Linked DNA regions of Homo sapiens: region 1 is linked to region 2. The links come from fine-mapping of genetic effects on gene expression. A gene starts in region 2. The other region holds a variant in brackets. All regions are shown on one strand. Distances are between the middles of the regions.

Region 1 (5,369 bases), 130 kb before region 2:
GGGAGGCCAAGGCGGGCAGATCATGAGGTCAAGAGATAGAGACCATCCTGGCTAACATGGTGAAACCCTGTCTCTACTAAAAATACAAAAAAGTTAGCTGGGTGTGGTGGCGCATGCCTATAATCTCAGCTACTTGGGAGGCTGAGGCAGGAGAATTGCTTGAACCCGGGAGGCGGAGGTTGCAATGAGCGGAGATCACACCACTGCACTCCAGCCTGGCAACAGAGCGAGACTCCTCAAAAAAAAAAAAAAAAAAAAAAAAAAAATCAGGACACAAGAAAGAAGATAGTGATGATGGTGATTTGTTTGTTTGTTTGTTTGTTTCAGAGAGGGTCTAATTCCATCACTCAGCTGGAATGCACTTTGCAATCACGGCTCACTGCAGCCTCCTCCAGGCTCAAGTGATCTTCCTGCCTCATAGTTTTTATTTTTTTGTAGAGACGGGTCTCACTGTGTTGCCCAGGCTGTCCTTGAACTCCTGGCCTCAGGTGGTCCTCCTGCCTCAGCCTCCAGAAGTGCTGGAATTACAGACGTGAGCCACTGAGCCTGGCCTGAAATCCAATTTTTAATGTTGCCTCAAAGATACCGAAAACATAGTGAGGGACAAATGGCACGTCTGTTGGACACATCAGACAGTGGCCATCGATTTGCTAGTTTAGCCATTCACTGGGGTACAAGGTGAAGCCTGAAGTTTTCCAAACTTCAAACTTGAAGTTAAAGTGCTTCTATCCACTTCCAGGGGTTGGTGCCCCTGTGCCAGACAGAGCAAACGGGAGGTAGCTGCTCTTCAACCCCTTTCTCCTTTTCCTAGGCCCTCTGCAGCCCCACCACACTTGGTCCCCACGCTGACCGGCTAAGGGTGTGTTGAGCCCGCCTGAGGCCCAAGCCTTCCCTCTGCCCAGAGCTGGGGACTCCTGGCCAATGGGCACTCCAGCTCACAGACCCTCGGTATTAGGTGGCTCCTTCATAGACCACGGACAGAGCCTGGGCTGCAGAACAGAACCCACACCCGGGCGCAAACCACAACTCAGGGCTGCTTCCTGGGATAGCGAAGAAAGGCTTTGGGAGTGGGCGGACCGAGGGCGCAGGGCGCTTCTCCTCCAGGTCCTCGGCTCGGCCACCCCGGTCCGGCAAATGGCGGAACAGACCCAGCCTGCCCTTCACTGAGCGCCACTGGTTGCTGGTGCCCCTGCCTCGGCCACAGTCGCGATCTCGGAAAATCCAGAGCCAGAACTGTAGTTATACAGAAGACTCCAGTGCTCCATACCCACCCTGGGTGGCAAGGCCTGCAGGTGAGCATTGTGAGCATGCGGTTGGCGCCTGCAGTGAACACCTCCGTCCCCCATCCTGGGTGCCTCGTGCGCACGCCCTACCCAACAGCCTCGCCCAGGCGCGCGCGGAGTCTGGAGCGTGGGACACAAGCAAAAGGGACGGTGAGGCACCTGGACCCCGACCCGGAGATGCTGAAATTAGGGTTTTTGACTTGGGACAGGTGGAATTGGAGTTAGAAGGTGAGTGTTAGCAGAAAGTCCCATAGACAGGAGTCAGGAGACCCAAGTTAGTCGTGGGACTGTCACTCCCTAACCGAAGTGGCCTAAGATTTCTGTGAGGCTATACTTTTTTTTTCTTTCTTTTTTTTTTTTTTGGCGGGGCCTGGGGTGGGAGGATGGCAGACAGATCCTTTCTCTGGTGCCCAGGTTGGCATGATCACAACTCACTGCAGTCTCAACCTCCAAGGCTCAAGTGATCCTCCCACCACAGCCTCCTGGGACTATAGGCGTATGCCACCCCACTAATTTTGGTATGTTTTGTAGCAATGGGGTCTCACTGTGTTGCCCAGGCTGTTCTTGAACTCCTGGGCTCAAGCAGTCCTCCCACCTCGGCCTCCTAAAGTGCTAGGATTACAGGCCTGAGCCGCTGTGCCCAGCCCCCAGTCTTTTTCTAACACTCTTTTCTACATGGATGAAAAATACCTATTGATAAATAAACACATATATGATAGTACCTACCTAATGCAGTTACTGTGTGAAATAACTGAATTAATACATGTAATGCACTTAGGAGACTGCCTGATGTTTAGTAAGTGCTACACAAGTAATAAATAAATGTTAAAAGAGGCTTATAAATGAGTAATTTCAATTAAATGAGGGACTGTAGAGAAGACTGGCGAAGAATTAAGCACAAAGGTCTTTGTAGAGGAAGTAAATACATGGCAGGCTGTAAAATGATCATTCACAAGCAGTTCAGGCCAGGTGTGGTGGCTCACGCCTGTAATTCCAGCACTTGGGGAGGCCAAAGTGGGAGGATCAGTTGAGGTCAGGAGTTCAAGACCAGCCTGGCCAACATGGTGAAACCCCATCTCTACTGAAAATAAAAAATTAGCTGGTCATGGTGGCAGGCACCTGTAGTCCCAGCTATTTGGGAGGCTGAGGCAGGAGAATCACTTGAACCCAGGAGGCAGAGGTTTCAGTGAGCCAAAATCAAGCCCCTGCACTCTAGCCTGGGCGACAGAGCAAGACTCCATCTCAAAAAAAAAAAAGTTAGCCGAGGGCTGTGGCAGGCACCTGTAATCCCGGCTACTTGGGAGGCCGAAGTGGGAGAATCGCTTGAACCTGGGAGGCAGAGGTTGCAGTGAGCTGAGATCATGCCTCTACACTCCAGCCTGGGCAACAGAGACTCCATCTCAAAAAAAAAAAAAAAAAGAAGCAGTCCATATGAGCCTATGAAAAACACCTTGCTCGGGTTGTTTCGACAGAGTCACCCAAAGCTACCTTCCTTCTAGCTTTGCCTTTGAGCTCTGTAAATTACTTCAAAGAAACTTACACTTAATCTAATGCAATTGTTCCTGTTATTTTTTTTCCC[G/A]GTTCCACACCCTATTTTAAGTCTAACACCTTCACTTTGTACTTTTGCCTTTGGATTCTAATGTGAAGAAGGAAAAGGCCTTCAATGCAGAAAATGGTGAAAAAAAAAATACCTGCCAGGACATTATAAGGAGAAACCAAAAAATAAACTGGCCATGGTTTTGCAAGGTGGGCAAAGCCAGGAAGAGGAGATCGGGAGAGAGAGGTCCGATGTGAAGATGTGCACAGAGATGTCTGGAAAATAAGCCCAGAAAAAATAGTCTTCATAACCCATATAGGGGAAAGTGGAAAAAAACTTGGGCAGAGTTCTAACGTGGTGTGTCATCACAAGACACATGCCAGAGAGAAGCCCTACCAGTGTAAAGAATGTAGGCCAGGCGCAGTGGCATCCCAGCACTTTGGGAGGTCAAGGCAGGTGGATCACGAGGTCAGGAGATCGAAACCACCCTGGCTAACACGGTGAAACCCCCGTCTCTACTAAAAATACAAAAAAAATATCCGGGCATGGTGGCAGGTGCCTGTAGTCCTAGCTACTCGAGAGGCTGAGGCAGGAGAATGGCATGAACCTGGGAGGCGGAGCTTGCAGTGAGCCAAGATCGCACCACTGCACTCCAGCCTGGGTGACAGAGCGAGACTCCGTCTCAAAAAAAAAAAAAAAAAAGAATGTAGGAAAAGCTCCAGCCAGAGCAGAGCTGAAAGTGCATACCCAGGAGAGGCCCCAAACATGTGGCAAGTGCAAGAAGAGCTTTAGTTCTGGCTCGGACCTCACCATGAATTGCACCAGGGAGAGGTGATATCATTGCCTTGACTGTGAGAACACTTTACATGCACCACTGGGATGGTGCATGGAAGAATCCACACTGAAACAAAACTGTAACATGTAGTGAGAGTGGCAGAAGCTTCAGGCCAAGCTCAGCTCTCATCACCACCAGGTAGCTCCACTGAAGAGCAATTCCACCCTTACGGCGAGTGTGGGAAAAGCTTCACGTCAAGCTCATGCTTCACTGTGCACCAAGAATCCGCCTGGGGAGAGACCCTACAGTGTAATGGGTGTGAAAAGGCTTCCAGCCTCAGCATGACATTTGTGGTAGACAGAAGAGAAGCCCTGTAAATCCTGGAGGTGGGAAAGTTTGGGCCACAGCATTAGCTTAATTTTACATTATAGAATCTACCTGAGAGATAAACCTTACGAGTGTCATGCATGGGAGAAGAGATTTGGTGGAGACCTCATCTTTTAAGATGCCAGAAAACCCACATCTCAGGAGTGACGTGACAGAGAAAAGCTCTAAAAGACTAGGTTTCTGGCCGGGCACGGTGGCTCACGCCTGTAATCCCAGCACTTTGGGAGACCGAGGCGGGCGGATCATGAGGTCAAGAGATCGAGACCATCCTGGCTAACACAGTGAAACCCTGTCTCTACTAAAAGTACAAAAAATTAGCTGGGTGTGGTGGCGGGTGTCTGTAGTCCCAGCTACTCGGGAGGCTGAGGCAGGAGAATGGCATGAACCCAGGAGGTGGAGCTTGCAGTGAGCCAAGATCATGCCACTGCACTCCAGCCTGGGCGACAGTGCAAGACTCCGTCTCAAAAAAAAAAAAAAAAAAAAGGACTCGGTTTCTGCTGGGGTCAGTGGCTATCACATGTAATTCCAGCACTTTCAGAGGTCAAAATGGGAGGATCACTTGAGGCCAGGCGTTCAAGACTAGCCTGAGCAACATAGCAAGACCTCAACTCTACAAAAAATTTTAAAAATTAGGAAGGCTCAGTGGTGCACCCATAGTCCTTGCTATTCAGGAGGCTGAGGCAAGAGGATCACCTGAGCCCAGGAGTTCAAGGCTGCAGTGAGCTGTGATTGTGCCACTGTACTCCAGCCTGGGCAACAGGGAAAGACCCTGTCTCGGGAAAAAAAAAAAAAAAAAAAGACTAGATTTCCTTGGTCATAAGCAACAATACCCAGCAAAGGATAGAAACCACTATTCCAAAGCTGTGTGTCTTGTGAATAAAATACCACATGAGCGAAGACATGTGGTGTTTTCCTTCACCCCAGGGTTAATTACATGGTGTTGAATAGATAGCCCAGGCAGGGGAGAGAGTGTGTGTTTTCACTTCCCATGTCCTATCTTCACATGTCAGCCAGTGGAAAAAATACTGAGCAAGGGTCAGGGATGTCGAGACCAAGGGAAGATTCCCTGATAGGAAGGGACATAACCCTTGAAATATAACAGCGTTATCTAAGCCACAAATGCTGATTTTAGGGTGACCTCTGAGAGTTTTCTCTTGACCTCCACTCATCACTCTTTGGCTTTATTTGCTGGCCCTGGCTAAGCACGTGGGCTCCCTCAGGGAAATATCATCGAGGTTAACAATCATGCTTAGGTTTTTAAGAAATACAAGAGTTTTCTGTACTAGTACTGAATGATTATTATGTAGAGAATGTATATCATCAAAGCAAAAGGGAAAAAAATAAGGCCGGGCGTGGTGGCTCATGCCTGTAATTCCAGCACTTTGGG
Region 2 (5,369 bases):
GTTCATAAGCAAACACAACATGTCAGTGTTAGTAGACCACTCTCTTTTTATATTTGCATTTATGCCTGTCCCCTGGGGGCATCTAAGCCTGTGACCCTTGGACCCAGCCCACCCAGACAGGAACTCCCCTACTCACCTTCTCTCATCTTTTGATCTAATTCATCCAGTGTTGGCTCAATCAACTCCCAGCCATCTGGGGGTGCTTTCCGGCTTCTTTTGACTTTAGGCATTTTCCTTCCACAGGATAATCTGCAAAGATCTGGGGGAAAAAAATGAATTGGTTTCTGAGTCTCAAATCCCCAAAGGCCTTTGCCAGCCATTATTTCGGTACAGGCTGACTTCCTTGAGTCAGCATAGGGTCACAGCTATGGGACAGGGCTCAGCACCCAGACTGTGTTCAAATCCTGGCTCTGCTACTTACCCGCTGTGATCTTCAGAAAGGTACTTAACCTTCCTAAGCCTCTGTTTCCTCATCTGTAAAATGGGGATAATGGAAGCTACCTTATGTGGTCATTGCAAAGACTTCATTAGAATTGTATCTATCATGCCTGGTGTATAATGTGTGCCTAAGAGACATTTGCTGTTGTCATTAGCTAACTTCAACTAAAAGCTTAACCCTATACTGGATGTTGGGAACACAGAACAAAAGTTAAGCCTTTGCCCCTTAGAAGGTGACATTTTAGCAAAGAGACAGACAAGAGAAAAAGCAATTACAATAGAGTATAAGGAGGGCTGTGACTCGGGGAGCCATGGGGGTGAGTATTTAAAAAGGCAAAGATGGAAGGTCAGGCACGGTGGCTCATGCCTGTAATTCTGGTCTTGGCCAGCACCTTGGGAGGCTGAGATGGGAGGATCACTTGAGCCCAGGAATTTGAGACCAGTCTGAGCAATGAGGTGAAACCCTATCTCTACCAAAAAAAAAAAAAAATCAAAAAAATTAACTGAGCATGGTGGTGGGTGCCTGTGGTCTGAGCTACACGGAAGGCTGAGGCAAGAGGATCACTTGAGCCCAGGAGGTTGAAAGTCTTCAGTTAGCCATGTTCACACTACTGCACTCCAGCCTAAGTGACGGAGTGAGACCATGTCTCAATAACAAACAAAACAAAACAAAACATAAAATAAAAAGGGAAAGATGACTGTAAAATCAAAGTACCTTAGGATGTGCTTTCCAAGAGTATAGACAGCAGAAAGATCTCTCGTCTCTGCAGTTGCAGGCTTGGATTCTTGTTCAGCTCTAAAAAATTATTCTGTGACTTTCAGGTCACCTTCCCTCTCTGGTCCTGTTTCTTCTGTAAAATGAGGGCAGTGGATTGGCTGATTGCCAAGGTCTCTTTCACACCAAACAACATATTACATAAAGTCAGGTAGTTCCCATACAAGAGGCCGATCCCAATCTAAATAGCAAAGCGTTTTTCAAACCACACAGCATTTCCTTGCTGCCAGAGAGAACCCAGGTTAAGTATTTACCTTTCAGCATAACAGATTCATCTCTCTCAAATTCATTCAGTCACTCCCTTCTGTACTGACACTTTACAAAGACCCACCCCCCCCCCGCCCACAGAGCCTCCTCTCATGAACTCTCTAAAACAACCATATAGAGGAGGAATCAAACTCTATAAGGTAGAATCAGGGTCACACAGCTGAGAATTTGCAAAACCTGACTCTGGAGGGCTCCTGACTCCCAAATCAGTGGTCTTCGCACTAGTCTCCCCTACGCTGAAGCTAAAAATAGGTGAATTCTGGTCTCGGCCCCAAGGCGCATAGTCTGTGACAAGAGAATGATCGCTTTTCTACGACCCAGGGAAATTCGAGGGCCCTGATCCAGCCTGGAAGTCAGAAGAGGCCTCTCGGAGGTGAAAATGGTAGGCGGTAACCAGATCGAGGAGAAAGAGGACGTAGGAGGTAATCAGATCGAGAAGAAAGATGTGCCGGGAGGTGTAAGAGAGATTGGGGCGCTAGGGGAAGGAGGCGAGGAGGAGCGAAGGAAGATAGTGCAGGATTGTAGGGAAAACTCATAAAAAGGACAGCATCTGAACCCAGCTTAGAAAAACAATCAGAACACAGAAGACGTTCCTACCAGAGGAAACGGCGCGAGAATCCTAGAGGAAAACCCCCAAATCTACCGTCCCCTCAGAAGAACGAACGTGGCGCCGCCTCCTCTCGGGAGCTCTCTCCGGCCTCAAGGTCCAAAGCCCGAACACATCCCAGTGGCTGGCTGAGAGTCCAGCCACTCATATCTCCCTCCAGGACGGTGCAGACCACCGGTCTCCCGCCTCAGCCGTTGCCAAGGTAATCGAGAACAGAGGGAAAACACATACCGGAAGCTCCTGGAGCTTGGGTAGCTGCTTCTCGACAGAAGGCTTCCGCTCTTCAGGCGATCTCTAAGGCATGAGGTCCTTGCGGAGCCCCGCCCTACCCGCGCGGAGATTGCGTCATCTTAGGTGTCCTCAGCAATGCCTGTATAGAATTCCAGAGCCGCTGTTGCCATTTGCCCTCACTTCCGGTGGGTGGCAGGCAGGGCCACGCGTCTTCCCGAACGGAGAGACTAGGGGCGTTGTTGCCTGGCAGCAGACGGGCAAGCCTGGACTTAGGCGGCGCGCAGGACGGTCCGACTTCGTGCGGAGGCCTCCCTGAGGTCCGGGTCCTTGCGGCCACTGCGGCCACTGAAGCGGCGGCGGCGGCTGGCCCAGGAGGAAGAAGTCGAGCCCAAGCTATTTCCGGTTCCGGTGTCAGTTCGAGGCGCCGCCGCCGCCGCCGCAGCCGCCGGAGCCGCAATGCCTAAAGGAGGTGAGGGGCGGGCGCCGGTGGCCCGCAGGCCTGGAGGGGCGGCCCAGGTCCGGCTTCCGCTGTCCCCTCAGCCCGTGCGCGTCTCTGAGAGCAGCGCAGAGGGAGGCTGTCCGCACCGGCTGAGAGCCAGGCCTGGGCCTCGACGCCCAATTGTCCCGATGGGGAAACTGAGGACTGTGGTGTCCCAGAGTCACTCCGTCAGTGGTCTGAGGAGTTTCGGAAGCTCTGGGTCCTCGCCGGCCTAGAAAGCCGGATCTAGGATGCGCTTCTCCGGGTCTAGGGGTTCTGGAATTTATCCCACTCTTTGGCTGGCTAGGAACTGAGTCACCGCGTCCCGCGCTTGTGCCGGGCCCGCCTGCCTCTCGCGTAAAACGTGGGCTTTTTCTGGCTTCGGTTCAGCCAGGCCTGCCTAGGAGGACTTAAGGAGATGCCCATGAGCCTTCCAGACCTGGTTTCGACTCCCCCGTTCGGTAGCGGCTCGGTGTGTTCCTTTGAGCCAGTCGCTCCACCTCCTGTGTCTCCGTTTTCTCATTTGCCAATGGGAATAACGATTGTACCTACCTCTTAGTACTGTTGGGAGGCTTCAACTAGGTAATCCACGTGGAGTGCGCAGTACAGTGCCAGGCAGTCGTTAAAAGTGCCCAGTGAAGCAGTAACTATTCTTATTTTTAAGGCTTTGCCAGCTCTTGATCTTGTAAGTAGGTTCATGACTGCCCAGTCCATTGTAGCCCGTCCTCTATCTTCTAGCCCGTTCTCTATCCTGTTTCCCCCTTTAGAATCGATAGTCCCCAGTTTGAATCCCAGCTATGTCACGTCTAATTCTGTGGCCCTGAACAAGTTAACCTCTTCCTCATCTGAAACACTGGGCTAATCCTTAGCTTGTTGAATTGGGGCCGGGGTGGTAAAATTATAGCGCTCATAAAGTGCCTGGCCACCTCCTGGCACAGAACAAATATATTTGTGTTGGTAGCTCATGTGTTATATTGGTTAATGCACTCAACCCACAGAAACATCTGCCTGTAGCGTTTTCAAACCTAAATCGCTTCCTGACTCCAGAGATAATTGGGCATTACAGAGCTAAATGTGTTTAAACCTAGCTCTCTACTGATTTATTCTGTGGCTGGAAAAGTCTCTCTGCTATTGTTCCCCAGTCCCTTCATCTGTAAAAGGAGGTTGCTGAATGAGCCATCCTCCCTCCGAAGTTTTACTTAATGGATACTTTGGGTAAAGGTTGGAGGTTACAACGATAAAACCTTAAATATGAATTCATAGCTAAATGGTCTTTGGGCTTGTGAAAAGCTTTTTGGGGTAGACAAGGTTTACATTTTCTTGGGTTAATCTGAAAACCACAAAAAACCGTGAAGGTGTTAAAAGTATCAAACTCCCTAAGAGCAAAGGACCAACGCTTGTTTCCATTATGTTAAGTGCAAATCGTTTTTTAAAGTCTTGAAGAGTCTACTATAAAATTACTGTGGACCAAGCTAAGGTCAGGGTCCCATAGCCAAGTGCATGAGAGGAGAGCCTATAGTAATCAATTTTGAGTTGTTACTGTTGCCTGGTGTATTAAGAGAGCAAGAAAGGGTGTTGGTTTTTTTCTTGGCACACTTGCTCTCTCACAATAGGACTTTAATAAGCATAGACTTAGACACCCCTGGGAACCTAGGTAGTCATTAAAAATGGGTGGTGTGATCTTTAGCAGCCCAATTATGGCTTTGCAGCTGCTGTAAGGAATCAGAGGAGGCCAGTATCTCTGCTACCGCCTCTGGAGTGCAGAGCAACTCTGGCTGATTACAGAGTCTCTGCTCACAGAGACAGACTATGGAAATCAGGTGGGCCTCAGCTTCCTGTGTGGAAGTTGAGGCCACAGCCACCCTTGCATACTTGGGGACCAGCAGAGGGGGATGCCACCTTGCTTTAAAACTGGCTGATGGCTTAAGCAAGGGTCAGCCTGGTGTTCTGGCTGAAGAGGGTCAGACTATAAAACTGACACTTTAACTGCTAGTCACATTTTTAACTTTTAGACTGTGTAGTCAGGTTTGTTTTCATCTGTACTTTGCCAGTCATTTCTTAGTCTAAGCACAAAGTTTTTGCCTGTAGGTTTGGGTTTCTTTTTTTTCCCTTAAGTATTCTCTTTTTGCCATACTACTAAGGTGAACACAAGGTATTTTATTGTGTTTCCAACATCTGCAGTAAATTGCTTATGTGCTCAGTGGTGCTTTTGTTGTTGTTTTTCCACCAAATACTAGATTAGAGGGAAAAGTAACGAACAGCGATTTTTTTATTTTTTTGAGACGGAGTCTCGCTCTGTGGCCCAGGCTGGAGTGCAGTGGCTCAATCTCGGCTACTGCAACCTCTGCCTCCTGGGTTCAAGCGATTCTCCTTTCTCAGCCTCCCAAGTAGCTGGGATTACAAACATGTGACACCATGCCCAGCTAATTTTTGTATTTTTAGTAGTGAGGGGGTTTCACCATGTTGACCAGGCTGGTCTTGAACTGGCCTCAAGTGATCTGCCCGCCTTGGCCTCCCAAAGTGCTGGGATTACAGGCATCAGCCACTGTGCCTGGATATTAGCGAACATTTTT

Which allele goes with the higher level. Positions count from the first base shown, and alleles are read on the strand shown. Sizes are in standard deviations (SD) of each study's normalised expression.
For the expression in lymphoblastoid cells of the gene that starts at base 2,354 in region 2, allele G in region 1 goes with a lower level than allele A (moderate effect, 0.66 SD a copy in GTEx).

The links. PIP is the estimated chance that this variant, and not a neighbour inherited with it, causes the effect. A credible set is the group of variants that fine-mapping cannot tell apart.
Region 1: its variant is the best candidate, but not a certain one, in a credible set for the expression of BUD31 in lymphoblastoid cells (GTEx, PIP 0.60).

Annotation. Positions count from the first base shown.
Region 1 is chr7:99,539,232-99,544,600 of GRCh38, reverse strand. It overlaps the pseudogene LOC100419451. Among named protein-coding and RNA genes, the nearest start is that of FAM200A, 10 kb to the left of the region's middle. The variant G/A (reference allele first, on the strand shown) is at 2,863.
Region 2 is chr7:99,405,954-99,411,322 of GRCh38, reverse strand. BUD31 (BUD31 spliceosome associated protein) reads right to left here and starts at 2,354. Exons shown (of 6, transcript NM_003910.4): 1 at 2,078-2,354; 2 at 1,154-1,289; 3 at 137-259. The coding sequence starts at 230. PDAP1 (PDGFA associated protein 1) reads left to right here and starts at 2,726. Exons shown (of 6, transcript NM_014891.7): 1 at 2,726-2,787. The coding sequence starts at 2,775. It overlaps MIR12119 (microRNA 12119), which reads right to left and starts at 2,151; the gene lies at 2,059-2,151. RefSeq lists an enhancer at 2,298-2,687 and a silencer at 2,898-2,957.